Linked DNA regions of Homo sapiens. The protein of the gene in region 1 purifies or fractionates together with the protein of each later gene. This does not show direct contact. Each region holds a gene or a part of one and is shown in the gene's direction. Other genes may lie near its edges. The genes, in order: ACTR3, KIFBP, TPD52L2, CD109, NFASC, NSUN2 and ARHGAP17.

Region 1 (4,288 bases):
ATTTTACACAAATAGGAACTTACTGTATATACTGTTCTGCACTTTGCTTTTATTAAAGATCTTTTGATAAAGAACTATATTGATAAGCAGTAAAGATGTCATGCTCCTGGCCCAATAAAATATTGTTAGCATTGTCATAAATATGTCTTTTCCACCGGCGATGGTTGGGTAGTTAAGTGAATAAGCTAGAAAGACATGTTTATAAAGCTATTTGATGACAATCTCAGGCATATTTATACAGAGATGTTCTTAACTGTTTGCTACAAAAACATGAAGATCAAAAACTTTCTTGAAGCTTACGCTTAACTTATTTGGGGAAACAAAACTCCAGCCCTTCTTGTGTATGTTCTGATATCCCTTTGCTCTACTTTTAGAGGAGTGAACCCTAATAGGATGGTAGCAGCATTCTTGTTTCTTTATATCTCTCCTCTGTGATTGTATACCGTTTTTTCAACTTAAAGCAACTTCAGCTGGAAATATGTAGAGGTTGGCCAAGGTGAACTAAATAGTCTGTAACATTGATTAGATATCAAGCAACGTGAGCATGGTAGCAAAAGCACTAACTGAAGCCAGTGATTTAATTTTTAATTCTGATTCTGATAATTGATGATATAGCTCCTCGAACTTTGTTTTTTGTTAAAACTTGGAAAATATATTTGTATTATTTTGGACAAATTATTTGAACTCTCTGGACCTTGATTCAATTTATATATAAGGTAAAGGCATTATACTGGATTATCCTGCAATTTCTTTGAGTTGTTAGAATATAATGTAGCTTATTAATAGCAATATTAGCAGTGTAGTAGATTCTGACTGCAAAACCTAGCCTTTTCTATTGATTCATTAGTGGTAGTAAAGGTATTATCTGATTTATCCTTTTTAATAGGCAGTGCTTTGATCAAGTGGGAAATAGTAATGGACAAATAAAATCAATGATCATTATCTAACTTGATGCCTGCTTTTCAAAAAGTGAGCAAATTTCACATCTTCACCCTTAGACATTAATTCATGGCACCTACTATAAGTACTCATCCTCTTCTTACCTATCTTCTTTTCTATAGGAGATAAAGTGGTTATTCAGACCCCCCAATACAATTTTTTGGTTTGTTTTCACAGCTACTTAAAAGATTAAAATAACTATTCTTGCAGATATTTCTAGGAATATTTTTAGAAATAATATGAAATACAGGGATAATAGGCCAATTATGATCTTTATTTTTAATTTCTACAGAAAAGTACTAGAGAATATATCTATAGAAACTTCTTTCAGATAACCCTAAAGATGATACTAGAATGTTTATAAAATTATTGAGAAGATTATTTGTGTTATAAAGCTTATTTGTACCATAGTAAAGGATGTTTTTGTTCCTCTTCATTCTGGGCTAATCTGTCAATACTGAAGTCCAGTCTTTTCCCCCTTTTCTTACCAGCTCAACCTTGATTCCTGTGACCCATTCTTTCTGATCTTTCGTAGTTCATAGTCACCAGGCATGAGTACCTTGGATAGCCCTCTGAAGTCTGTTACCACCCAGATTTCCAACTCGGGTTAATTGGTACTAATTCTATTAGCTGGTATAAATAATCCAAAATCTGTGCAGACTCTGGGAGCAAAATGTTCTACTCAGTTTGGAATACTGTGCCTTAAAATATATTTCATTGTAACAGCACCTTGTATATATAGTTGGCCAAGGACAGAGTTGTTACAAGTTACGTGGAACTTTCATAGCAAATCTTGACAGTAAATACCTTGTTCTTGTATTAGGTCTATATCCTGAATTGACCTTTAGCAAGAATCTTTAGATCTGCTGGAGGGCTGGGATGGCTTTTGGACTTCAGTGAAAAAGAATTTCTGCTACTCATTGTTGATAACGCTTCAGTACTGTATAAATGTTTATCCTTTTCCACGTAATTTGTTTTCTATGATATGAGAACTTTTATTATAATTTGCCTCAGTCTTGATAGAATCTTAACAAAAATAAAATCTGTGGTCGTCTGAGGTATTCTCCATGCTATAACCCAGTTTAGCTGATGCATTTGGAGCTTGGGTGCTGAAATTAAATATAACCTATTTGAGTTAAGGATTTATTACTAGTGCTCCAGTGGTCACAGGAACAATAAAAAAGGAACAACGATAGAAATACGTGATCTAGGAAAGAAGGCAACTGAAAAACCTGAAAGAAAAAAAATGAAAGATTAAAAGTATACGATATTCTATTTTGATTTAGCAATTACTTGTTTTCTAGTGTTCTGTCAATTTTTGGTGACTTTTATAATTACATTAAAACTAAGATGCTGAATTAAAATAAAGTTTCTCTTTTATTCAAGCACCAACATTCACTTATATTACCTATATATTGCATCAAGTTTTGAGCCTTCAATCCCAGAAGCATTGATTGACTGTCTACTGTGGTTCAAGTACTGTGCATAAAGATGAATAAATATTCTGTCCTTGGCTTAGTCTAATAGTAAAGGCACTCTTAGAGGAGGGACAAATATTTTGCCTAGATAAGATTTGAGAGATAGTAAGTGCGGAATTTCTCTTCATAAAAATGGTAGTGTTAGTTGTTTAGAGGGAGAAGTCCAGCTATGTAAGGTGAAAGTGGGGCTTATAAAAGTGGATCTATTGTTTAAAAATTAGTACTTTGCTCCTAAAATTTTTACCTAAGTGTTACATCCAACAACAGATGAAAGTAATTCGACAGTAGCATCTGCTTTATTCATTTCATATTTCCAGTGCCTGACATATTGCTTGGCATATAGTAGTTTAGTGGATGTGTTTGATGAATGAATGAGTAAAAATTATTTTTCATGTTAAAATAAAACTTTGAATTACATGAGTATACAACTTTTGTTCCTTCAAAATACCCATATTTGTCAAATATGACCGAATTACGACTTTTTTTCTGTTCCACTAGTTTCTACCTTAGAAGTGACATTCTGCGTAAGGTAGTGGGGGATTACTAAGTGATCATGACTTTTCTGAAGCAGGTCTTAAATAATTATCTAAGCCTTCAGTCATTTCAAAATCTCTGTAGTGTAAATGATCACAGGCTCTAAATCAGATTGTTGTACAAGGTAATTGACATGTCCTGAAATGTAACATTCAACATTAACAGTAGAAACAGGCCTCATTTCTCCCTCTGGCTTTTATTGATCAATTTTGATATTGTCCAGATCCCATGTTAAACCACTTGATTTAGAGATGACTTAATTCTAAACTTCCTCCATTTTTAATTAATAAGATTCAAGGTTGCAGTAAATTGTTAATCTTATTTGGAATTATATTAGAAAGTCGATATCGGAATTGGAACCACACATCTTTTTCTTATTGTGGGTACATGGGATCTTTCCCAAATAAATTCCTGAGCAACAAGAAAATCTGAGACTTGTTTTAAATGCTAAAATGATTAGTTGGAATAATGTATACATTCATGAGATGACTAAAGCACTAGTGGGGTAGTTTCTACTGCAGTAGACTGATTTTTCTTAGCCCAAACCTTGAAAGATGAATGTTTTAGTAGATGGAGAGTAGGTGGGGATGATATTTTAGATATGGCAGAAGCAACTTGAGTTACAGCAATTGGGGAGGGGATTAGAATATTGTGATTAGGAGAAGTGAGGAGAAGAGTGGGAGAGAAGACTGAAGGATATCTGACACCTTCAAACACACCCTCAAACACAAACATTGGCTAAAAAAGTTGATGCAGTTCAGGGTGAAATCACACACATGATTGACATAAATAACATTGTGGAAAAGTGACTTTGCAAAGACCACACAGGTAGTTGCAGAATAGAACTTACTGGTTATAATTTTTTTGATATTTTACTGAATAGCATATGGTTTATTAAATTTTTTTCAAAATTAATTTGGCAACATTTCTTAGCTTCTCTGACTCATTCTATTGGGAAAGCTGATAGCAAGATTCCTGTGCTAGACTACTAGAGGGAGGTATCAGATGACCAAGTCATGTCTGATACTATAGTTACCAGATAGTTACCAGGCTAATGTGCTGAACTAAGGAAGGAGCCTAAAACTCAGCAGTCTTTTTGAGATTGGATTGGACTTTATGAATAGGCAATGAGCTCTTAAAAACGACATTCCATATACAGAAAAACTATGGGGATTTCAGACTGCCTAATTTAGCTTCTCCACGGGGCATACTTGAGGTCGTTCACATTTTGGCTATGTATCTCCACATTGGTGCTAAGTTTGTGTACCTCGTTTCTGATTTCACTAATGCTGAAAGTTCAACTTGCCAGTGACCTAAGTGGATCTTTTATGAATTAG
Region 2 (4,129 bases), on another chromosome or scaffold:
GTTTAGGAAGGACTTTTTAGGAGCATTAACACTTAAAGGATAGACGTTTAATTTTATTTATTCTTCAGAATAATTCTGTCGAGGTAAGTAGTATCATTCAGATTTTACTGTGGGAAACCTGAAGCTTAAAAAAGTTAACTTGTCAATAAGAAAGCTGGTTGGTCTGAGGTTCAAACCATATGTCTATGAGCTCCCAAAATCAATGCTCCTTTGTATGTCTCAAAGCACTGTACACAGCTGGTGCTTAATAGTTAAAATCTTCTATCACCCCTCCCCATTTGACTTGATAACTTAGGAAGGTAAAAGGCATGAGGCGGCTTTCACAGCTGTGGGACTTAGCTCTTGTTACCTTGGGCAGTTGTACAGATTCCTACAACCTGTATTTCAGGGTCGAAGTGAAAATATTTGTCTATCACTGAGTGTTTTGTATATTTATGGCTCTCGATCAAGAGATTATGTGTCAATGATAATAATCAGCTCTTGGCTACATTTCAATTTTTTTTCTTTTATTTTACTTTTAAGTTCTGGGATACATGTGCAGAACATGCAGGTTTGTTACATAGGTATACATGTGCCATGGTGGTTTGCTGCACCTATCAACCTGTCAGCTAAGTTTTATGCCCCGCATACATTAGGTATTTGTTCTAATGCTCGTGTTTTCTTTTTTTCTGAGGCAGTCTCGCTCACTGTAACCTCCACCTCTTGGGCTCAAGCCATCCTTCCGCCTCAGCCTCCATGGTAGCTGGGACTACAGTCGCGCGCCACCACGCCCGGCTAATTTTTTAAAAAAAATTATGTAGAGATGGGTCTTGCTATGTTGCCCACTCCAGTGGGCATCCCAAAATGTTACTGGCATCCCAAAATGTTAGGATTGCAGATATGAGCCACTGCGCCTGGCCTTTTTTAAAAAAAGTTTTATCCAGTGACAGGCTGGGCTATACACTTAATGTCTAAAGGTTTTTGCCTTTCAGTTCATATCAACGCGAGTAGAGTTAGCTAGCTATGTTTGTAAACAATATTCCGATATGCTTCGTTAAAGTAAGCCGATATTAAACATTTATATAAATCCATCCTCACAGGGTCAATCTGGAGATAAACTCACCGCTGCAGGGGGCGGGGAAGGAGGTGGGAACACGCTCATTGACAACTTCATTTCCATGAGAATGGTTGCTGTGGTGATTGCTGCGTCTTCCCATTGGTCATTGCCGAGCGTATTGCGGTTCTCCGGGAGGGTTATATTGGTTCCCATTCCACAGCGGCCGCAACGTGTCGAGAGCCGTAAGTAAAGTGTCGCAAAGCAGAAGGAAGGCGGGAGTCCCGACTGCAAACATTGAGGAAAGCCAGGCAGTAGAGGCCGCTATGGCGAACGTTCCGTGGGCAGAGGTCTGCGAGAAATTCCAGGCGGCGCTCGCTCTGTCGCGGGTGGAACTGCATAAAAATCCGGAGAAGGAACCATACAAGTCCAAATACAGCGCCCGGGCGCTACTGGAAGAGGTCAAGGCGCTGCTCGGCCCTGCGCCTGAGGACGAGGATGAGCGGCCTGAGGCCGAGGACGGCCCGGGTGCCGGTGACCACGCCCTGGGGCTGCCGGCTGAGGTGGTGGAGCCCGAGGGGCCCGTCGCCCAGCGAGCGGTGAGGCTGGCAGTCATCGAGTTCCACCTCGGGGTGAACCACATCGACACGGAGGAGCTGTCGGCGGGGGAGGAGCACCTGGTGAAATGCCTGCGGCTGCTGCGCAGGTACCGGCTCTCGCACGACTGCATCTCTCTCTGCATCCAGGCGCAGGTGAGAGCGAGCCCGGCCAGGCCGGCCCCTGTTGGCAAATGGCGAGGGATGGGGAGGAGCCCCTGCCAAGGCCAAGGGCAGACGTTGTAAGGCGCAATTCGTCCCCACGTTTTTGTAGCTCTGGACTGAGTCCCAAAGAGCGTCTGTGGTCTTCAAAAAAGCCAGTCTTATGGACTTATTGCCTTGTAACTAGATCTCCCACAGTCGGCCGTCCCCAGACTCCGTGTCCACCCTCGTCGCCCACACCAATATCGCTTGCTGCTGCTTCACTTAGACGTGGCGATGCATTGGTGTCCGAGACCCTCCTACATCGTCATGCGCTTTCCTCTCCACCAGTCCAACTCCTGTTCATTCTGTTAAGAAAATCCAAAGTAATTTAAATCTTAACGTCTCAAGGAAATGACAATGACCGGAGTACATTCTTTTTTGGTTTTGTCTTGTTTTTGTTTTTTTCTTAGAGATGGGGTCTCACTGTGTCGCCCAGGTTCGAGTTAAGTGGCACCATCATAGCTCATTGCAGCTTCCACCTCTTGGGCTCAAGCAGTCCTCCTGCCTCAGCCTTCATAGTAGCTGGAACCACAGGCGCATGCCACCATTCTTGGTAATTTTTTTAATTTTCTGTAGAGATGGGGGTCTCACTATATTGCCCAGGCTGGTCTTGAACTCCTGGACTCAAGTGATCCTTCTGGCTCACCTTCTCAAAGTGCTGGGATTACAGGCCTGAGCCGCTGTGCCTGGCTCGGAATACATTCTTAATTCAAAATAAAATGTCCAAAATCTGCAGCTTCCTTTCTTACCAAATTCATTTGTTTGCATCTTAGGGAATTCTTCCCCATTCTTGAAAACCTATCTCAAGAATCACTTCCTTTAGTATTAATAACTTTCTTGGGACCATTTTGGGCCAAACTGATCTCTCCCTCCTACCTTTGAATTCTTATAATACTTTTTGTTTCCCATTTATATGGTACTTGGTTTCTTAAATAAATCTGGGCAGGGCACAGTGGCTCCCATCTGTAATCCCAGCATTTTGGGAGGCCGAAGTGGGAGGATGGCGTGAGGTCAGTAGTTCAAGACCAGCCTGGGCAACAAAGTGAGACTCTGTCTCTTAAACAAAACAAAACAAAACAAAAAACCCACAAAACTAGCCAGGCATGGTGGTACACGCCTGTAGTCTTAGCTACTGGGGAGGCTAGGTTGAGCTGGGAGGATCACTTGAGCCCCTGGAGGAGCCATGATCATGCCACTGCAACTGCAGTCTGGGTGACAGAGCAAGACCTTTTCTCAACAACAACAAAATCCACATCAATATTCTAAAGTAATATTGGTCAACACCTGTGAAAAGAAGGGGTGAAAAAAAGAAAAATACTTTAAAAAGTTAAAATAATATTGGGACAGGTGAACATGGATGTTTATCACAGCAGTGTTGATTATTAAAGAAGGAAAATCGCAGGGCTGAGGCAGGAGGATCGCTTGAGCCCAGGAGGTCAAGGCTGCAGTGAGCCAAGATTGTATCACTGCACTCCAGCCTGTGCAACAGAGTGAGACCCTGTCTCAAAAAGCAAAGAAAAGGAAAACAATATAAATGTCAGTAGGAATATGATTAAATTCCGTTACATCCAAACAGAAGAACAGTACACAATTATTAAAAATAATAATTTATATTAACAAAAATTGGCAATATGAAGAGGGAGGAAGAAGACTATAAGCCATATTTAGAATTATGTAGAAAAGGCCGGATGTGGTGGCTCACACTTGTAATCCTAGCACTTTGGGAGGCTGGGATGAGATGATCACTCGAGCTTAGGAGTTCAAGACCAACCTGGGCACATAGTGACACCTCATCGCTACTAAAAATAAGAAAAAAAAATTATTCCAGGCATGGCTGCTTTGCTAGGCAGTATGTTCTTTGGGCAGCCATCGGGGCCCCAACCACCACCGGGGCTCTGGGGCCAGGCTTCCTTTACTTACCAGCAGCTCCAGGGCCTCTGAGACCTTCTAACAGTACTTTGGTGGATGACATGGAGTCATCTTTCCAGACTTGCTTTGCCTCTCCGTTAAGTCAGGACTATGTCAATGGCAGCAATCAGGAAGAAATTGGAACTGGTGTTGATCGGTGTATACACAAGTTTCTGGATATTGCAAGACAGAATATTTCTTTCCTACAAAAAAGATTGCAATTATCTGTCCAGAAACCAGAGCAAGTTATCAATGAGGATGTCGATGTCTCCGAACTAAGAAATGAATAACATTGGAGACATGCACTGGTCCAGAAGCACTTGACAAAGCTAAGGCATTGGCAGCAAGTGCTGGAGGTCATCACGTGCAGTACAAAAAGCTAGCTGAC
Region 3 (4,288 bases), on another chromosome or scaffold:
TTCTGTGGTCCTTGTTGTGGGTGTGGCATGGTCACAGCCTCTGACCCAGATATGGCCATATGGGCCGGGCATGGTGGCTCATGCCTACAATCCCAGCACTTTGGGAGGCTGAGGCGGGTGTATCACTTGAGGTTAGGAGTTCAAGACTAGCCTGACCAACATGGAGAAACCCTGTCTCTACTAAAAAATAAAAAAATTTAGCTGGGCGTGGTGGTGCGCACCTGTGATCTCGGCTACTAGGGAGGCTGAGGCAGGAGAATCTCTTTAACCCGGGAGGCGGAGGTTGCAGTGAGCCAAAATTATGCCACTGCCCTCCAGCCTGGGTGACAGAGCAAGACTCTGTCTCAAAAAAAAAAAATATATATATATATATATTTATATATAGGACCATATGGTCCCACAACCCTAGGGACTCTGACCCTCCCCGATGACGACGTGGTCCTACATGACGACGTGGTCCTATAACCCTGGGACACCTGTCCCAGATGTCGCTCAGCTCTGAATTTGGGGAGTGCTGCTTTCTCACTTGGCCCTGTCCACGTGGCTTCTCTGAAACATACCCTTCAAGGTTGGGGTGGCTGTGGAATGTTTCCCAGAAGACATGTTCCTATACAAAGACAGAACAGGTCACATTTCATAAATCTCACATATGAGAGGCCCATGTTTTTGTCCTAGGACATCGTAAGTTTTGAATCCCAAGGGTGTTTTGGAGCTGTGGGCTGTGCCCTTCCAGTCCCCCACAGCAGTGCTGTTGCCCAAGAATCTCCTAGCGAGAGACCAGGGGCTACTGCCAGGTGACAGAAAAGGGAACATCAGTTCCGCTATACCCACAGCTCACCTGGCGGCCTGGGGCCTGCACAGGGCCTGGTTGAGGCAGTGGACCCCATTTTTGGGCCGTCTGTGGAGTTGATGTTCCTGCCAGCTGGTCCCTCTCTGTCTTCCCTGGAACTTCACCTGCAGTTTGATGCCTGAGTTAAAATTGTTCTTCTAAATAATTCACTGTAGACTTTCTGTTTTTAGCTATGTGAAAACTTCTGAGAAACTTGGAGAGTGGAATGAGAAAGTGACCCAGTCAGACCTGTGAGTGCCTGTATCATCAGCACCTCCTCCTTCCTCCTCTCCGCCTCCTGACACTCAGTCGGGGAAGGGGGCTGTGCACACTTGGCACAAAGCTTGTTTTGGTATTTGCTGGCTATTTTTTCTTCCTATAACTTTTCTTCTCTCAGGTAAACTATCCTTTAAACTTTTGTGGAACAGGGAATAGTAGCTGAGAGAAACTCACTCAGCCACCTGACCACACTTAAAACTCCCCTCTGCCTGATATGCGTCCCTTATGTAAGAGGCCTGCACTGGTCCTGGCTGTATCTCTAACTAATAGAGCTCCTTGGCTTCCGGCAGTGCACAAGCTGGACAACACCACTTGGCCTGGGTTTGTTGGTGGCGAATTTTTGTTTGTTCTAACCCTAACCCTTTTCCCTGCTTAGCTCCAGCTGTTGGGTTCTCAGAATTCCTTTCCTCCTTTAGGGGTAGTTCTTGAGTGGAGGGCATGGTGTAGGATATGCTGGTGGAAATTTGAAATCCTCACGATCTGGGAGGCACTGCATTGTCAGAGCATCAGCCAGTGTGGATCAAGTGTGGATAGTTTTGTATGTGTGTGTCAGTGGTGTTGTTCAGAGTGACTCCTAATATTTGGAGATCCTTAAACTAGATAATAGCACTTCATTTACTTGTGCTCTGATCTGATTATAACGTCTTTAAACTGAGGAGGGGAATATTTTTAAATAGTCTCTGTGGGATTTTTTCATCTGTTATTTAGAAGGAAGCGCTGTAATCGTTGCCACAGAACATGGGCAGAAAGTCCTCCCATGTTGGTCTGAAAGGAAGCAGTTGCTGCCGAGCTTGTCTTGAAGGTCCTGGGGGACCAGGCTGGCACTGCGTGCACATGGAGCCTTTGCGTCTGGTGTCACGGTGGGAGGCTGGTGTCAGGAACCCCGGGCGGTTCTCGGCATGTTGCCCCGGGTATTCCAGGGACCCGGGTGGTTCGTGGGCATGGCTACAGCAGCCAGCTGTACATCTGGGTGCTCTGGGGACCCGGGCGGTTCACGGCATGTTGCCCTGGGTATTCCAGGGACCCGGGCGGTTTGTGGGCATGGCTACAGCAGCCAGCTGTACATCTGGGTGCTCTGGGGACCCGGGTGGTTCATGGCATGTTGCCCTGGGTTTTTTTTGTTTGTTTGGTTTTTTTTTTGAGACAACGTCTCGTTCTGTCTCCCAGGCTGGAGTGCAGTGGCGCCATCTGGGCTCACTGCAAGCTCCGCCTCCCGGGTTCACACCATTCTCCTGCCTCAGCCTCCCCAGTAGCTGGGACTACAGGCGCCCGCCACCACGCCCGGCTAATTTTTTCTATTTTTAGTAGAGACAGGATTTCACCATGTCAGCCAGGATGGTCTCAATCTCCTGACCTCGTGATCCGCCTGCCTCAGCCTCCCAAAGTGCTGGGACTACAGGCGCCCACCACCACGCCCGGCTAATTTTTTGTATTTTTAGTAGAGACAGGGTTTCATGGTGTTAGCCAGGATGGTTTCGATCTCCTGACCTCGTGATCCGCCCATCTCGGCCTCCCAAAGTGCTGGGATGACAGGCGTGACCCACTGCACCCGGCTTGAGCAGGGTGTTCTAGGGACCCTGGTGGGCTGTGTCTCGGGCTGTTGAACAGTGACTTTGCTGGGCAGCAGATGGTTCCTAGGTTGGGACAGTGACGGTCATCCTTGCAGTTTGGGCATCAGGCGGACGCACAGTGCAGACTCAGTCTGAAAATAGTCTTAGGAGACTTCAGTGCTGTTTTGTAAAACCAACTGACATAAAGCTGCCGGGATCCTATTTCAAATAAATAGTGTTTTAGAGAGCTTATTACAACACTCAGCGTCCCGACCCCTCTGGAGAAACCTGTGGCTCAGCATGGAAGCATATGGCCAGTGCATCACCTGGCCGAGGCCATTCCCCTGAGTTCTGTGGCGAGAGCTGTCAACTGACGGTTCCAGAGTGGAAGCGTTTCTGCCGGGAAGGCCCAGGCCGAGGGCGATGGTTTCTGCCGGGACGGCCCAGGCCGAGGGCGATGGTTTCTGGTGGGAAGGCCCAGGCCGAGGGCGATGGTTTCTGCCGGGACGGCCGAGGCCGAGGGCGGTGGTTTCTGCCGGGACGGCCCAGACGGAAGGGATGCGGCTTGGGAGGTGGGGCCTGAGGATGTGGCCATGGCGCGTGCTCTTCCTGGCTGGTGCCTCTCCTAGTCAGCTTCAGGAGATGGGCTGTAGATGTACCTCCACTGCCCAGAGCTCTGCAGGGGAAGGCAGTAAAAGCTCCCTGCATCCTGACCCACGTGTTTGTAGATCCTTTCAGCTATTGGCGCCCTGGAGGATGGACGGGAAGGAGAACGTGGCCGGTGGGTGGAGGATAGCACTGGTGCCTGGCCCCATGAGGCTGCAATGCGGCCACATTCTCAGTGGGTCATGTCTGAATGCGAGAGCAGCTGTGTTCTGCGAGTGGTGAAACAATTGCCTGTTGCATTCTATTTATAGGCAGAGGTAACTAAAAACCTCAGTGCTGAGAGGGGCATCATATAGATCCTGCAGTTATGAGCTGGTTCACTTGGAGTTGTTTTGGTTGCAGGTGACAGAAAGCACGACTCAAGGTAGCATCAACCAAACAGGGAGGTGGGAGCACTCACCAGGCAGAGAAGTCCCTGCCCCCACTGCTGCAGCCCAACAGTGTGGCCCCATATGGGTCTCCCTGGACTAATGGCTGCGGCCTTGGAGGTGGTGTGCTCTGGCCAGGCCTGGATCACTTGTCCATCCTGAGTGGGAGTGGGGGCAGCCCCCAGAGACAGACTCAGGAGAGGGGGAGTGCAAGGATGTCCCCCAGATGCCCTGTGCTGCCCAGGGGACAGCTCACTGGCAGTGGGACGAAACCGCTGTCTGTCCAGGGCTCTCTTCCTAGAAGGTCTTAGGAACTCCCAAATGGGTGCTGGCTGGGGTTGCCCGGCCCGGTGCTCTCAAGGAGAGCTGAAGCTAGTTATTGGGTGCAGATGCTGGCTCTGACCCCTGCCCCTTCCTCCCGGGCTCAGCTTCCCCATCTGTCATGGAGTAATAACAACCCAGCCTTCTGGTCCACTGAGGAATGTGTGTGCCTGTGTGTTTGACGCTCTCAGAACAGGCCTGCAGCGCTGTGAGCCTTGGAAGGGGGCCTCACAGCTGCTGCCGCCACCTTGGAGGCCCAGGATGGGACTGAGAAG
Region 4 (3,500 bases), on another chromosome or scaffold:
GCAGTCATGATCTCACTAGGCTTCAGTTTCATCATCTGAAAAATAGTGGTTTCTGCCTTATACAATTATATGGATATTGTGAGGATTAAATGAGGTAACATATTCAAGGCACTTAACACAAAGGAATTATTCAAGAAAATGGTAGCTATTGTTACTAGAAGAGAGTAGCAACAGTTTATGTCAAAGGCAATTATTAATCACCTATTGTGACAATCTTGAACCGGGAACTCTATAAAAGACACATCCCTAGGAGGGGATTGGAAGGGATTTAACATATTAAATATCCAGTTTCCTCATAGTGCCAAGGACTTTATGCACTATATTTAATTTTAACAACTTGATGAAGTAGATACTCTTGTCTTCATTTTGGAGGTGAGGAAATTGAGGCAAAGAGAGAAGAATTAGTTTTTCTGAGTTAACCCAGTTAGTAAATGGTGAAGCCTGAATTTGAAGTTAGTTGTATCTGAGGTCCAGAGACCATAAGGTTTTCTATTGCTGGGAAGAGAGTGAAGTATTTTTATTTCCTTGATTTTGGGATATTGATGCAATGTTGCAGTTGTCTTCCACTAAAATCATTTTCACATTTGCTTGCAGTAGATAGACCTGGATCTAATGAAATCTAATTTGAATCGAAAGAATTACAAAATGAAATGCCAGCTCTCCTCTTAATTTACTTTCAGCCTCATAGAGTTTTGGAGCTGGAGGGGACCTCAAAGATAAGCAAATTCAATAGCCTAATATATGGCTGGGAGACTGAGGTGAGGCATGGGATCTGGGGATTTTCCCAAGGTCAAATCACTTATTGGTGGCAGAGCTGGAAACAGATTGCAGTTTCCCAAATTTGCAGTCCAGTGCTATTTCCAGTATACTCTACGAAAGTTTCCTAACATATGGAGAGCTGAGCTTAAGACCTAAGATATATTTACAAATGCTGATTCTTCTGATATGGAAGAAAATAAGGCTAACTAAGGAGTTTAAAAATGCTTACTTGCATACTGTGAAAGTTTCTTATTTTAGCTCAAGGTGGAGTTGCTCTTTATGCACTATTTGTTCTGTATAAGGGGTGGGGGCTGGGTTAGAAGCTTCATAGACCTTTTAAAAACTAAATTCTGTTGCTTTGTTTCTCAGAGTCCAAATTGTATTTATTAAAAAGGCTGATTCATGGCCTCCCTCAAGACATGGGTAAGAATCAAGAATCTCAGCTGGGTGTGGTGGCTCACGCCTATAATCCCAGCACTTTGGGAAGCCAAGGTAGGTGGATCACTTGAGGCCAGAAGTTCGAGACCAGCCTGGCCAACATGGTGAAACCCCGTCTCTACCAAAAACACAAAAATTAGCCAGGTGTGGTGGTGGGCGCCTATAGTCCCAGTTACTTGGGAGGCTGAGGCAGGAGAATCGCTTGAACCCAGGAGGCAGAGGCTGCAGTGAGATTGTACCAGTGCACTCCAGCCTGGGTGACAGAGCAAGACTCCATCTCAAAAAAAAAAAAAAAAAGAGAATCTAACCTTTATGTTCCACCATGACCACAGGTGATTCTTAGTCACATTAGAATGAGAACAACTGCCCTTTGGTATCTCACAAATTGTACTCGACCAAATACTGGAAAGCTCGAGGGTGAGTAGCATGCCCCTGCAAGCCTGTGATGATTCATGGCGGCGGAGGGAAGGCTCCTCGTGGACTTTCATGTTTGCTTTTAAGCAACCCTCAACCCTAAGCGCTGGTGTTCATTTTCAGCCGCAGAGAAACATGACTTGGGGTTTGATTGTGAATCAACGATTGGGTGAAGTTAAAAGTGAACACACTGATTCTTTAAACTCCAAGTTAAACATGTGCTGCTCCTCTTCTAGCACTGGATGAGTCACTGTCCTAGTGACTCACTGAAGGATTGTGGTGGAAATAGAAAACAGATCCCATAAGAATTTGGGCTGGGTTACTGTTGATCCTTTATGTCCTGTGAAGAGGGCTTTATAATGCTGAAACTAGTTGTTTCCCCACAGACATTTCTTCTCATTAATGTATTATTTATTGATTATTTGCTGTATGTGAAACATGAATGAATGGGGAGTGGGGAATAAGAGAAAGGAAGGCACTGGAGGACATTCAGAGGTCCCAGAAGGATAATATAATATTAAAAGTGCAGAAGGCTAGAGGAGTTTTTATTTTTTGTATAAAAAATACAATGCGGTTTGTAAATAGTGCTTCTTGTATGTGAGCCTGTGCCTGGTACTATTATCTTTTACTTCCAGAGCTATACAGATGTCCATTCATAAATGTCCCACCTCTGCTGACATATTTGGCCTTTGGAGGGAACAGTTACTTCACGTACTAGAGACGGGAAGGGTGTGCCGGAGGAAAGAGCTGCTGGCTGGTGTGGCAGTTATGAAAAGGAGATAGGGGTTTGTGTATATATTTTCTAAAAAGATGTTTCATTCTGCTTTGGATATGAGTTTGGGGAGACATCCAGGTGGAGATGTCCAGCAGATAGTTTTGAAATTGCAGCTGGGGAGAGAGATTTAGGCATTATTTTCATAGAGGCAGACAATATTTTGAAGTCCTGGAAATACATAAGATGCACAAGAGAGACAGAGCTCATGGAAAGAACAAGTCTTTTGAGAGAAGCTTGGAAAGAGGAAAATAAGTTAATGAAGGGAAAAAGACCAGACACAGTGGCTCATGCCTGTAATCCCAGCAACTTGGGAGGCTGAGGTGAGCAGATCGCTTGAGCTCAAGAGTTTGAAATCAGCCTGGACAACATATTGGAACCTCATCTCTACTAAAAATAAAAAAAAGGTAGCTGGACGTGGTGACATGTGCTTGTAGTCCCAGCTACTCAGGAGGCTCAGGCAGGAGGATTTCTTGAGCTACAGTTATAGTGCCGTTGTACTCTAGCCTGGGTAACAAAGCATGGCCCTGTCTCAAGAAAAAGAAAAGAAAAGAAAAGAAAAGAAAAGAATAGAATAGACAACGAGCAATCAGAGAAGGGTAAATTGAAAATGTCTCAGAAGCCAAGGGAAGAAGAAGTTCCAAGAAGGAAGGTTTAATAGTTAATAATCAATTCTCTCAGGTCAGAGAAGAGGAGGACAGAGGAAAGAACATTGGTGACGCTTAAGTAAATGGCTTTAAGTTGAATGTTGGAAGCAAAAGCAAATTTGAGGGAATAAATGGATGGTGAAAAATATAATCAAAATTTATTCTTTCCAGAAGTTTGGTAGTTGAAAGGAGAGAGGTGGACGGTCTCTCAAAAGGCACATTAGAAAGGTGAAAGTGGTTAAGGCAAAGGAGAGGGTGGATAATTCCTGGGTTAGAAGTGGTGAGATCAGTATTGGGGCAGAGGCAAGTGGATTATCCTTAAAAAACCCTCATACTTTCTTCTTTGAAGAAAGAAAGAAATAGAAGAGAATCATTAAGGAAAGAAATATTTTGAGGTATGAAATTGAGATGAAGAATAAAATTGAAATACAGTTTTAGGAAAACTTATTTACCGACTTGTAAATTGCACA
Region 5 (4,288 bases), on another chromosome or scaffold:
TCCGCCTGGAGGTCAAAGGTAAAGGAGAGGGTTCGCCAGTGGGAGTTTGGAGAGGGACAAGGAGGCCATGCTGGCAGTTATCCACATACAATATTCACATTGAAAATGCACCACACCTGTCTTTAACCTGGAGTGGGCTGCCCAGTTTGCACCTGTGGAGTCCTTTTAGGATCAGTGTGGTCCAAAGAGAATTAGGAAGGGAAACCTTCTGCTCACACCAACTCCCCACTACCAGCCCAGAAATTACATCATATATTCCTGAGCCAGATGGAGTGGATTTGGGGCATTATCTGCTTTGGGGATTACCCACCCAGAACTCTGCTCCGTTCATACCATAGCATACTGTTTGTGCCCCACTCCATAGTTGGCCCAAGGCCTCGAGGGCAGACATATGCCACTTTGTGGCCGCATGGGGATGCTGGGCAGAGAACAGGCCAGTGGCGAGTGCTCTGGGCTTCTCCACAGACCCCACCAGGATCTACCGGATGCCCGAGGACCAGGTGGCCAGAAGGGGCACCACGGTGCAGCTGGAGTGTCGGGTGAAGCACGACCCCTCCCTGAAACTCACCGTCTCCTGGCTGAAGGATGACGAGCCGCTCTATATTGGAAACAGGTTTCTCTTCCCCCTTCCCCCTTCCTAGTGCTAGTTTGAGGCGCATTTTCTTTTCCCTTGCTGTTGGTGACACATGGAAGAACACAGGGACAGGGAACCCGTGTCATGCATGTCACCAAGGAGCTTCTGCAGAGGGGGTGATGGCCTGGGCAACTCCCCTGCTTCAGGGGAGACCCCCCCACCGACCCTGTACAACCTCCCTCTCTCCCACCAGCTCCCTGCTTCTCTCTCCTACACCTCCTCTCTCTCCCTCTTCTCAATCTCTTCACTTCTCCTCTCCCTGTCTCCCCTCACTTCGCCTCTTTTCCCTTTCATTTTTGCCCCTGTCTTCTCTTTTCCTCCTTTGCTGCATCCCAGGCTCCAGCCTTTCAGCCCTATTTGCAGTACCCCTAATCTTCAGCAGAGGGCAGGGTTGATCTGAGCCAGCTCTCAGCCCTGACTGAACCTGGCATGCTTTTACCACACCCACGCCTGCCCCGCTCCTCAGACCCTGATTTCATTGGTGTAGGGTAGGACTTAGGACACTGGCAGGGTTTAAAAGTCCCCCTGGGGGTTCCAGTGTGCATCAGGGTTGAGAACCACTGTTCCGAGCCTCCCTCCCCAGGGCTTACTTTGCTTTACCTTCTTCCACCCCGAGGGAGCAAAGTTGTGCAGGGCCCTGCAGTTGGACACGGTACCAGCGGTTTCTAGCCATCATTTGACTTTTTGCAGAGGGTGTTCCCCTCTGTAAACCTTCTGGCACTCAGTGCTGACAGCTCTACAGCCCCATTCTGCTCTGTGGCCTCCCCTCTCTATAGGAGACAGTTCCCAGGAGCCTGGGGTCAGGCTGGCCTGAGCATGGGTGCAGAGGAGACAAGTCTGGGCTGAAGACAGACAAAGCTACAAGTATGAGAGGAGAAGGAATACCAACCTACCTTGGGGTCATGGGCCTCATGGTGCCCTCATCTGGGAGGGGTGCACAGCACAGTAAAGGCACAGAGGCAGGCACACGTACAGAATTTGAAGGTGGCAAACGTGCTTCACAGCCACTTGAGCTCCGCCCACTCTCTGTTCCCCTCCATCAAGTATGATGAGTGCTCCAGGTGACTGTGAAGACCTCACCTCTGTCAAAGCATTGAGAGGGAGCCTCATACCCCCAGAAGGAGCTTCCCTTGCCCTCCTGACTCGAGAACCCCCTCTAGGGAGAAAGCAATGGGCAGGACTCAGCACTCCCCTACCCCCTCCTCCCAACCCTTCCTCGGTACCTTTGCAGGATGAAGAAGGAAGACGACTCCCTGACCATCTTTGGGGTGGCAGAGCGGGACCAGGGCAGTTACACGTGTGTCGCCAGCACCGAGCTAGACCAAGACCTGGCCAAGGCCTACCTCACCGTGCTAGGTAACTGCCCATGCTCACCCTGGCACTGACCAGCCCCACCCCCTCCCCAGCAGCCAGAGAAGCAGTGGCCCGGGGCAGTTCCGAGGGCAGTGCCTGCAGTCAAGTGGCCGGGTCAGGCGTGGTGATCTCTTCTTGCCTCGTGATGTCAGGGTTAGGGAGCTGCCAGTTTCAGAACAAGCTGTGCTGGACAGGTTACCTCCTGAGTGGAGTCATTAACTTCCCCACGTCTCAACTGAAAGGGGCCTGAGTGATATAGAGAAAGTGGAGAGGGGTTTCTCGTTGTGATCATTTTACCTTTCTTACAGCTAACTCCACCACTAAGTCAATTAAAACAATCCATCCTTAAAGCAAGACTGAGTTTGTGTTTGTGCTTCCAATGACCTCTGCCAGCCTTCCTTTCCCTCCCGCTCCATCCCTGGGTTTTGGTAGCGTTTCATCACATGCTATGCACTAAGCAAGATGACGTTGTGTCTTCCTGTCCTGCACCCAGGCTGGACTGTAAATACTAAGCTAACCCAAACCAAGAGGAAGGAGGCCTCTCCCTTCCAGGCAAGCAGGTCCTCTGTCACCTCTGCCTCCCCGTGGGTGCCCTACTGCCACTAGCATTGGCGCAGTGGAGAGGCACAGTTGCAGAGAGGGTGGGCCCAGACACGATAGTCACATTGGGATGGTAAGGAAACAGAGGTGCCGCCCCCAGCTGTGGAGGAAACACAGATGGCCTCTATAAGGGTAGGGGATTCCCCATGGAAGGACGGGGACAGCCCTGCCTAGAACACCTCAGCCCAGAGGCAGCTGTTTAAGCCTCGGCTGCCTACCCCCATCCTTCTAGAACACCTTTAATGCTGGATAACCTGCTAACCTGGATAACCCGTCTTACCTTTGCAGCTGATCAGGCCACTCCAACTAACCGTTTGGCTGCCCTGCCCAAAGGTAATTCCCACTAATCACAGTCCCCTGCCAGTGCCCTCTCTTGGCACCCAGGGTGTGGAGTCTGGGAGAAGGAAGCCACTTTGGGAAAGGGCGACAGTGTGTAGGTTTGTGGGCAGCACTCCTGGCTACATGGGACCTCCTTTGAGTTGCCCACGTCCACCTCCCCACGGCCCTTTGCTGGGCTTCCTGCTCCTTACAGGGTGAGCTCGGAAGTTCTCGGCTGCTGTTTTACCCCATCCCTTGCCTCCATCCACACTCACCGCTCCCTCAGGGTGGCCTGTCCTCCCAGCAGTCTTTCAGGTCCTGTTTGCAGGGAATGCGAAAGCCTGCTCCCTTCACATCACCTGGAAACTCATTGTTCAGCCTCCCTGCATCTATTGCTTTCTATCCATTTACAATCTACACACACATGCCACACATACGTGAACGTGGGCCTGTAGGACTCACCTTCCAAGTCCTTCTAGTGACCATCTGAAAGATGGAAATACCTGGTTCAGGGAGTCAAGATGGAGAGAAAATCTTGCCTACCCGTACCACTCAGTAGCCGATGTCTTTATCCCAGGCCAGGATGGCACTTAGACCCACTAAAGCAGTCCCAGTGAGATTCATGCCCTAAAAAAGGTGCTGCCCTCACCCCTGTTTGCAAGCCTGCTAGGCTTCTGTCCTGCTGTCCATCAATGAAATGCCTAAGCCAAGTCTCCATCTCCTCCCTGGTCTGATCCCCTCTCTTTGTTGCCCCCACTCCCCTAACCCATCTGCCATGTTCAGCAGGCCAAGCCCTCTCCTGGGTTCCCATCTCCTCAGAGCCTTGGCACACAAAGTAGAGGACAATTAATGTGAGAAAATGGGACAGAATCCCACACTCCCTCATCAGCCTTCCTAAGTGTCGTGAGCATGGGTCTGATGACGGGTGGCATTCCTGAATGCTTGCACTCTCAGAAGATCCACCAAGACGGAATGGCGTTGGTCCCAGTTCTGTCTGCATAAGCCCCTTTATTTCCTTGTTCCACACCCATTGATATTCTTTGTGGGGGGGGGCTGGGATTTCAGGAGTCTCCTCTTTGTTTTCCCTTGGGCCCCTGTGGGAAGGGAGTGGTCCCTGTGCTCACCCCTCAGGGCAGGCTGGGGTTGGATCCAGCTGGTAGCGAAGACAGCCCGTCAGGGAGCTGTCCAGGGCTAGGGCCATCACAAGGGTGGACCTGCTCTAACTCAGGAGGCCTGCGTGGTGTCTTCTGCCACCAGGACGGCCAGACCGGCCCCGGGACCTGGAGCTGACCGACCTGGCCGAGAGGAGCGTGCGGCTGACCTGGATCCCCGGGGATGCTAACAACAGCCCCATCACAGGTAGCTCAGGGCCTTGCACCCCAA
Region 6 (4,288 bases), on another chromosome or scaffold:
ATTTGACGCATGGAAACATTGTGAGCCTGCATTGTTAAATTGAGTGTATTACTGCATCTCAGGTTTAGTGAGAATTGCTGAAACTACACTAAGATTTATGGCCGTGTGACGTGGTACACTTGGTTTGGCATTGGATTGAGCATGGTGCTGCATGACATCAGTGTGCTCATTTGTACGGTGCAGATGCCTGTATAGGTGCAGGCCAAGTTTCAAAGCACATCCTGGGTGGGGTACAGTGGCTCATGCCTGTAATCCCAACACTTTGGGAGACTGATGCGGCCGGATCACTCGAGGCCAGGAGTTCGAGACCAAGCTGGCCAACACGGCAAAACCACATCTCTACTGAAAATACACGTCTGTAATCCCAGCTACTCAGGTGGCTGACTGAGGCATGAGAATTACTTGAATCCAGGAGGCAGAAGTCACAGTGAGCTGAGATTACACCACTACACTCCAGCCTAGGTGACAGTGAGACTGTCTCAAAAAAAAAAAGGCAGTGTTTTTAGTATCCCCCATTTCTCCCCTAATTAAAAAAAATAAAAAAAATAAAAATAACATTGATGTCATCATTTATAGAAAGTTCAAATATATTCACAGATATGATGGCAGGAAATGCTTTATTCTTAGTTATATATAGGTAACAGCCTAGGAGCTCAAGTTAATGCATTAGTGGTTTCCAAGGTAGGATTTTTTTGGTATGTAAAATATTTTAGTGCATTATTGAACTGGTGTTAGAAATAATGAAAAATATATTTTTTAAAAAACTAATCAGGTATTTGTGGGACACTCTGACACTGCATTATTTTGATTCTGTGTGATCTGCACATTAAGTAAGTCATCTTGTATCTTTTTTTTCTGATGACCTTACCATTGTTACCTTATAATGGTGAAGAGCAGAGGAGTGTCCGCTTTTTCATCTGATCTCGAGCGTTTCATCATTATAATTTTACAGTAATATGCATAATCTTGTAACCCCCATGGCTCTCCTGTTTCTGATTGGGCCACGGTGTAGCTAGAGCCATGTTCCTTAAGCCTACAGCGACATCTCTGAGTGTTGCTGACTGTCCGTAGAGGATTGTGAATAGGAGCAGGGAGAACAACATTCGAAGTCTCATTTGGCATGCGACTGATAGAAGCACAAAGTTGTCAACAGACGACTTTAGTATTTATAATCCATAAATGTTTTGCTTTCTTTTTGGTCAGGTATCCTGAAGAACTTGCCTGGCACACAAATTTAAGTCGAAAAATCTTGAGAAAATCGCCACACTTGGAAAAGTTTCATCAGTTTCTAGTTAGTGAAACAGAATCTGTAAGTTGATTTCTTTAGACTTGCTAGTTTCCTTAAAGCTGTAAATGCATAGATGTAGTGTAGTTCTGTTTTTAGGTTCTTGTCACTAGAAGCAGTAGGTGGACATCACACACAGTAAAGACAACTGCAGTGTGTGCACCACCTGTGATTTCTGATTATTTGTATATCCGTTGCCTTGTTTGGTTTATCTAGTCATGAAATTTAGTAAGGATATCGATGCCAGCTAGTTAATTTCTTGTTTCCTCTTGCTTGTGTATTTGGATGGCTATAGGGTTGGGGTGAGCACTGCACTCTCATTTCCTTCTTAGGTACACATTTCAGATGCCTGTTGTACATAAAAAGTAGTATGTTTTTAAGGCCATCTTGGTAGGGAATAGGTTTTTGGTTCTGTTTTTTAAAATTGATTTATTTTACTAAAAATGAAGCTTTTGATTTTACTTTTTACTGTGTTTTTTTTTTTTCTTACCACACATTGCTCTTGGTAACCACAAAACACCTAAGCACCACAAAACCCCTAAGCACAGCTTTGGTCCTCACAGGACGGCATCTGTCTTCACATTCTCCGTAGCCACCCACATTCCTTGAGTGCAGTTAAGGTGCTGAGCTTTTTACCTTTAGCATCAGAGCATCCCCAGCAAAACAGCTATTTGCTTATGTACTAAATAATTCAATGAATGCCCATAAAGTTTGGGTATTTTTTTTGGAATTCTTAGTCTCACATTTAAAATCAGAGGTTTCGTCCTTCCTATTTTCTAAACTACTACCTTCTAGTAAATCTGTGTGTCACCAGATTATGGTTCTTTTTCACTTTGGCCTTCTGTCATCTAAGTAACCGACTAAACTGGGCTTGTGTCTGCCTGGCTTTTCCTTCCTGAATAGTAACAAGAACCAGGAACTAAGTGCTGCCACATAACCCCATTTCGTACTTGAGACCAGTGCACGAAAGGATTCTCTTGCTCAACTTTCAATCTAGATGGAAGGCCAAATAGAGATCAGTAAGCTGCTAGAGAACAGCTCAGGTTTGCACTTGGAAGAGAGCGTGGGGTTTGTGGGGTGTGATACACATGGATAGGTTGGAAGAGCCAGGTTTTGGCATGTTTGGAAGATGGAGGAGATGGGAGTTTAGGGTGGGTAGCAAATGTTGTAGGGAACTAGTATAGGTTTTTGATTAGGAGTCAGCGTGATGAGAGCTCTTGAGATGAATGGCAATAACCTCTGGGTTATGGAAAGCTGGCCACAAAACATCTACACAGGGTGGTCATGAATCTGGTTACTGTCTGCCGGGATGTCCCCATCTTACTTAATGCTTTAATCAAAACCTTGGATGGATACAGAAGGCAGGCATATCAGGATCACACGTATAACTCAAAAGCTTGGAATCAGTGTGCCTAGTGAGTGAATCACCACAGACTCATGCTGGCCAGAAACCCATGAGGTGAAAATTAGCAGCCATCAGTGTAAAAGCCTGTATTTAAGGCTCTTGACAGTCACATGCCTGAGTTTAAGGTGAGTGATGGATGCCTGGGTGGCTGTTCATTTCCAGAAGTCCCAGCTTTTGTAGGGTTGTGTTGGAGCAGAAGCCTCAGCTTCAAGGCGATTAAAGTAGAGGTGTGGTTGAGGCTAGTGCTGGGCAGGGCAGGAGGATTTTGTCTGCACCTGAATAGTTCTGCCTTGTAACAGATGTCCTGGCCGACTAGAGAAGACAGAGGGCAGGGAGTGTGGTGAGGAATTTTAGATATTGAAGGTCTAAAGATGGAAAGATGGAAGCAGTGGTTGATGTCTTCATCTCTTTGAAAGGTAGTTATGAGAAATAGAAAGTGGGCATGGGCTATGTCTGAAAATAGTGGAGGACTAAGAAATAGAATTTTAGGCAAGAAGGAAAAACCATTTGACAGTCACTTTCTGTCCTAAGTTGATGCTGTCTGTTGAAGGTATTTGTTTAAATATTTAATAGCATTTCTGTCTTTGAGAGCTGCCCCTCTAGCTTCTGTGCTCTACTGCTATGGGGAGTTGGGGCTCTGTAAGCTTCAAGTCCCTTTTCTTTCATGGAAGTTGGTATTATACCTGAATTTCTAATATTTGAATGGTATAGCAACCATTTGTCCGCTAGTGTACAGATCCATCTCATTTAGTGTTCTGTGTGATAGTATGAGTTCTCTCATTCTGTATAAGATTATGTGCTGTTTTCCTGTTGCCTTTGAAACAATGCCAAAGATTGAAATTGTCTGCGGTTTTTTTTTTTTTCCTAATTGTTGCTGATTTTTTTTTTTTCCTCAAGGGAAATATTAGTCGTCAAGAAGCTGTTAGCATGATCCCACCACTGCTCCTCAACGTGCGGCCTCATCATAAGGTAGCATATAGCAACTAGAAACGTGGGGGCGGGCAGCTTGTTACCAGTGTCATGCCTGTTTGTTTTGATGAAACCATTTTTTCTTAATATAATTAGTCCTTTTTTTCTTCTTTTCACTTTGGATAGAGAGTGATATGTACGTATCTTAGTTTCTTTTTTTTTTTTTTTTCTTTTTTGTCCTACTTAATTTTTATGGTTTAGAAAATTTTCTCCCCTTTAGTTTTACTGATTTGTTTACCATATGGATTGTCTTCAGTGATGGTGATTGGCTAAATTAGGTTGAAAATGATAGTGAACATGTATTGAGAGCTCATTGTATGGCAAGCATTACTCTGTGCTCTTTTTTCTTTTCTTTTTTTTTTTTTTGAGATGGAGTTTCACTCTTGTTGTCCAGGCTGGAGTGCAGTGGCGCGATCTTGGCTCACTGCAACCTCCGCCTCCTGAGTTCAGGCAATTCTCCTGCCTCAGTCTCCCAAGTAGCCGGGATTACAGGTGCGCACCACCACACCCTGCTAATTTTGTATTTTTAGTAGAGACGGGGTTTCTCCATGTTGGTCAGGCTGGTCTCGAACTCCCGACCTCAGGCGATCCGCCTGCCTTGGCCTTCCAAAGTGCTGGGATTACAGGTG
Region 7 (4,288 bases), on another chromosome or scaffold:
GAAACCTGTTGCTTCCTTGCTGTTGATTTCCTAGATGTGTGTGTGTATGTGTTTTCTGCTTAAGTAATCAGAAAGGACTAAGGAAGATAAACGGAGGCTGGAGAGTGCCTAGAATTGTTACTGCTTGGAAGTAGGTGGTTGGTTGGCCCCAGAATCAGGATTCTGGGTGTTTTTAGGTCAAGATGAAGGCTACAAAGCAAAGGGTTTTTTTGTTTTCGCCCCTGCGATCTAGGTGGAGAAGGAAGTTATATATGTGAATGTCATGCCCATCGTGTTTTGGTTTATCAATTTGTGGAATTCTAGGTGGTGTCTTGCAGTGAGATATTCTCCTCAGAAGGGAGACCTTTGAGTACTTTCACTGTAAGGTTCCAGGGGAGGGACTTGTAGAGAATTAGTAATGCCTGGAAGGAATGAGTTCGCATGATGCAGTTTGTTTACGATGGGTGGGTAAGTCTATTTGAGAAGACGGCCTGAAACTCACAGGGGCAAGGCTTATGAGGTGGTCTCATGGTGTGAGTGTCCCAAAGAAGAGAAGTAGGATGGTTCTTTTAGTCCACCTGCCTTTTGTTGATTCATGCATTCAACAGACACTTGTTGAGCCTACACTGTGTCCTGTTATCCAGGGTATTAAAGAATCAAAGGTGAATACGGGCATGGTTTCTGCCCTGAGGGAGCTCAGGAGATACGTGGAAGAGGTAGGCAGGCAAAAAATAATTATATACATGAGATAAGTGCTTAAGAGGGATGGCTAATGCACAGAGCAAAACCCAGCTGTCATTGGATTGAGGGAGGTAACAAAAGCTTCCCAGAGGAGAAAATCTGAGCACCTTTCTCTGCCTTCATTTTCAAGCCCTTATTTCAAATATCTCTTGTATTGATTAGGTCTCTTTTGGTTGTAAGAAAACCCAGTTCATAGCAAAGACGGGAATTGATTGGCTCATAAGTGACCAAAAGAGCCTCTAATAAGTAGTGTGGCTGCAGATTTGGCTTCTTCTGGGGGTTCCACTCTTTTTTTTTTTTTTTGAGACGGAGTCTGGCTCTGTCACCCAGGTTGGAGTGTAGTGGCGCGGCTCACTGCAGCCTCCACCTCCTAGGTTCAAGCAATTCTCCCGTCTCAGCCTCCCAAGTAGCTGGGACTACAGGCCTGTACCACCATGCCCGACTGATTTTTGTATTTTCAGTAGAGATGTGGTTTTGCCATGTTGGCCAGGCTGGTCTCAAACTCCTGCCCTCAGATGATCTGCCCACCTTGGCCTCCCAAAGTGCTGGGATTACAGGCATGAGCCACTGCGCCTGGCCTCGGTTCCACTCTTTAGGTAGGCACTGTGTCCACTGGGAGACTTCCACATCTTCCAAGTCTCAGAGGGAAAGAATACTCATCTCGCAGTCACTGTGGCCCGAGTCCCAGGATTGGCTCTGAATGCTTCTGGGTCACATGCCTTTCCCCAGAAATGGACTGGAGTCAGCGCACCCAAACCATATGGACTGAGAGTGGATGGTAATGGGTGGTAATCAGGCAAGAAATAAAGGTCATGGTGTGTCTTTTGTAGCCCTGCTAAAAAGAGAGATGTTTTGTTTCTTGAAAACCCTTAGATGCAGATCATCACCAATGGTGTTTTTGGGGAGATGATGTCTTGAGTAGAGGAAGGAGTACACTGGGATGAAGACCTTGAAGTTACAGAAGTATCAAGGAGAAAAAAAATTTGAGAGACAACTAGGAGAGCATAGTACTGAGGCTCTGATAGGGAGTGTCTCCTTGGGTGTTGATTTCTTCCCTGACTGAAGTTTCCCTTGGAGGTCTGAATGCTTTCACAGATAGTTGTTTTTTGAGAACCCAAGGTTGTAAACCCAAATGCCTAGAGGGCGAGGCCAGTAAAATGAATCAGTGCTTTGGGCCATGTGAAGGCCTCAGGGGACCTGGAGGACTGTGTCCCACCAAAGGGGCTGCTGTGGTAATGTAGGCCCAGTGTGGACCACCTGTGGAGTTTTCCTGAAATCTGCATTTTAACTAGCTGGCGTTTAATCCAAATTAAACTACGGGGACACTATATGCAGCTGAACAAAATATTTCTGTGGATCACCCAACTGCTTGTCTAGAAGGACTCAGAAATTGACAGTCCCTCTTTTTCATTTATTCCCCTGTACCTTACCCTGATGTTTTCAGTTCTTTGGATTTGTTGAAAAACAGCTCATCCTTTCTTTACTAAAATCTTGAAAAGGTCTGATAGTAACAGTCTATAACATTTCTATGGTGGTTTAGTTTACAAAGTGCTGTACTAAACCACCTGGCTTGGATTTCGTCTCCTGACAATGATAACTTCTCTCTGACAAAGATGGAAACCTGGCTGGGTGGGGTGGGGTGGCTCACGCCTGTAATCCTGACACTTTGAGAGCCCGAGGTAGGAGGATCACTTGAACCCAGGAATTTCAGACCAGCCTGAGCAACATGGTGAAACCCGGTCTTTACAAAAAATACAGAAAACTAGCCAGGAGTGGTGGTGTTTGCCTGTCTCAGCTGCTTGGGAGGCTGAGGTGGGAGGATCAACTGAGCCTGGAAAGTCGAGGCTGCAGTGAGCTGAGATCATGCCACTGCACTCCAGTCTGGGTGACAGAGCAAGACCCTGTCTCAAAAAAAAAAAGAAAAAAAAGAGGAAGAAACCTGACTTTCTAAGTTTGCACAGTTACTGAGTAGTGGCTGAGGCATGGCTTGGGTCCAGGGCCTCTTCCTGTGGTTCCCAAGTGCTTTTGAGTACAGGAACTGGGCTGCCTCTTCACCAGGGAAGGATTAGTGTTTATTAATGTTTATTAAACATCTTCTGTGCTTATGAAGCTGCTGGGCTTGGTGCTTTGCATACTTTTATTTCATTGCATTCTCATAGCCACCCTCTGAGGTGATGTTACTTATTTCTGATTTAATGATGAGGAAGCCAGAGATCAAAGAGGTCATCAAGCTCGCAAGAGACAGAGCCGTGGACCCAAACCCAGGTTTCTGATTCTGCAGCAGCTATAAATTCTGATCACAGAGATCTAATGACCTCTAGGAGTCTTCCACTCCTAGGAGGTATGTAGAATGGACCACTCACTAGGTAGTTGGATCCACTACCAGCAATGTGAATTCTCACACTGAGTCAAAATGTGTCTCTACCTACTGATCCCAGAACAGTCCCCTGCTGCCGAATTGAATGAATCTCATCTCTCTTCCCTGAGTCAGCCCTGCCTGTATTTGATGATCACAAACCTTATCCTTACGTTGCCAGCAGTAACATTCTGCATCCCTCACCCACTCCACTGTGTCCTTTTCCTCCCACTGATCTTCACTCTACCTTTCCTTCCCCCCACCCTTTTTTTTTTTTTTTTGACGGAGTCTCGCTCTGCCGCCCAGACTGGAGTGCAGTGGTACAATCTCGACTCACTGCAACCTCCACCTCCTGGGTTCAAGCGATTCTCCTTCCTCAGCCTCCCGAGTAGCTGGGCTTACAGGCATGAGCCACCAAGCCTGGCTAATTTTTGTATTTTTTAGTAGAGATGGAGTTTTGCCATGTTGGCCAGGCTGGTCTTGAACCCCTGACCTCAGGTGATCCACCCACCTTGGCCTCCCAAAGTGCTGGGGTTACAGGCGTGAGCCACCACGCCTGCCCACTCTGCCTTTTCTAGGGGAACTCTGAACAGTATTTCTGAGAAGGGATAGGTAATGTGTGCTTTGCTTCAATCTGAGTGGATTCCATCAACCTCTCCATAGAGCAGGGTGGAAAGAGGTCCTCTTGTCGTTGCAGCAGCTTCTCAATCTCATCTTTTATGGCCTTATTATGTAGTTTACATGTTAAGAAATCCAGAAGTATTTATAGTTGAGTGAAAATCCATTCTTTACTGGGGGGAAGAAATGAACTCTAAAACCATAAAAATGATGAACCAGTAGAAAATTTTCATCTGTAAATTTGAACCATAAAAGGATATGTTCATTTAGCATCATTTTTATATGTGTAAGCGGCATGTTACGCTATTATGGAATTGCCTTTGTAGCAGAGTGGACGAGGCAAAACCTTCCAAGTTTGATTATGGCCTAGGGCGCTGCAGTCAGTACGTGCACCGTGCATTTTTGTCAGACCACAGGATGTTTCACCTTTATCATTCTATTTCAGTTTCTCAAGTGTAGGTAGATGCTGTAGTAACTAGTGAAGTACAAATCCATGTAAAAATGTTAAACTCTCATCTGTTCGCTGTGTTTGTATTTTCTTAAAGGTAGGGATTAAAAGTGTAATAGGCCCACAGTCCCTTATCTGGAATCATT

The links.
Region 2: the proteins of ACTR3 (region 1) and KIFBP fractionate together in Homo sapiens (co-fractionation; one large-scale study listed by BioGRID). This does not show direct contact.
Region 3: the proteins of ACTR3 (region 1) and TPD52L2 fractionate together in Homo sapiens (co-fractionation; one large-scale study listed by BioGRID). This does not show direct contact.
Region 4: the proteins of ACTR3 (region 1) and CD109 fractionate together in Homo sapiens (co-fractionation; one large-scale study listed by BioGRID). This does not show direct contact.
Region 5: the proteins of ACTR3 (region 1) and NFASC fractionate together in Homo sapiens (co-fractionation; one large-scale study listed by BioGRID). This does not show direct contact.
Region 6: the proteins of ACTR3 (region 1) and NSUN2 fractionate together in Homo sapiens (co-fractionation; one large-scale study listed by BioGRID). This does not show direct contact.
Region 7: the proteins of ACTR3 (region 1) and ARHGAP17 fractionate together in Homo sapiens (co-fractionation; one large-scale study listed by BioGRID). This does not show direct contact.

The regions. Positions count from the first base shown.
Region 1 is NC_000002.12:113,959,252-113,963,539, forward strand, and holds the end of ACTR3 (actin-related protein 3), read left to right. Parts: 3' UTR 1-3,345; downstream 3,346-4,288. UniProt on the Homo sapiens protein: ATP-binding component of the Arp2/3 complex, a multiprotein complex that mediates actin polymerization upon stimulation by nucleation-promoting factor (NPF).
Region 2 is NC_000010.11:68,987,474-68,991,602, forward strand, and holds the start of KIFBP (KIF-binding protein), read left to right. Parts: upstream 1-1,329; 5' UTR 1,330-1,359; coding exon 1,360-1,785; intron 1,786-3,654; exon of another isoform or gene 3,655-4,129. UniProt on the Homo sapiens protein: Activator of KIF1B plus-end-directed microtubule motor activity. Required for organization of axonal microtubules, and axonal outgrowth and maintenance during peripheral and central nervous system development.
Region 3 is NC_000020.11:63,874,796-63,879,083, forward strand, and holds part of TPD52L2 (tumor protein D54), read left to right. Parts: intron 1-1,020; coding exon 1,021-1,080; intron 1,081-4,288.
Region 4 is NC_000006.12:73,702,703-73,706,202, forward strand, and holds part of CD109 (CD109 antigen isoform 1 preproprotein), read left to right. Parts: intron 1-3,500. UniProt on the Homo sapiens protein: Modulates negatively TGFB1 signaling in keratinocytes.
Region 5 is NC_000001.11:204,974,806-204,979,093, forward strand, and holds part of NFASC (neurofascin isoform 1 precursor), read left to right. Parts: coding exon 1-18; intron 19-465; coding exon 466-613; intron 614-1,865; coding exon 1,866-1,990; coding exon of another isoform or gene 1,991-2,019; exon of another isoform or gene 2,020-2,341; intron 2,342-2,875; coding exon 2,876-2,920; intron 2,921-4,162; coding exon 4,163-4,264; intron 4,265-4,288. UniProt on the Homo sapiens protein: Cell adhesion, ankyrin-binding protein which may be involved in neurite extension, axonal guidance, synaptogenesis, myelination and neuron-glial cell interactions.
Region 6 is NC_000005.10:6,622,585-6,626,872, reverse strand, and holds part of NSUN2 (RNA cytosine C(5)-methyltransferase NSUN2), read left to right. Parts: intron 1-1,203; coding exon 1,204-1,309; intron 1,310-3,587; coding exon 3,588-3,659; intron 3,660-4,288. UniProt on the Homo sapiens protein: RNA cytosine C(5)-methyltransferase that methylates cytosine to 5-methylcytosine (m5C) in various RNAs, such as tRNAs, mRNAs and some long non-coding RNAs (lncRNAs).
Region 7 is NC_000016.10:25,008,434-25,012,721, reverse strand, and holds part of ARHGAP17 (rho GTPase-activating protein 17), read left to right. Parts: intron 1-4,288. UniProt on the Homo sapiens protein: Rho GTPase-activating protein involved in the maintenance of tight junction by regulating the activity of CDC42, thereby playing a central role in apical polarity of epithelial cells.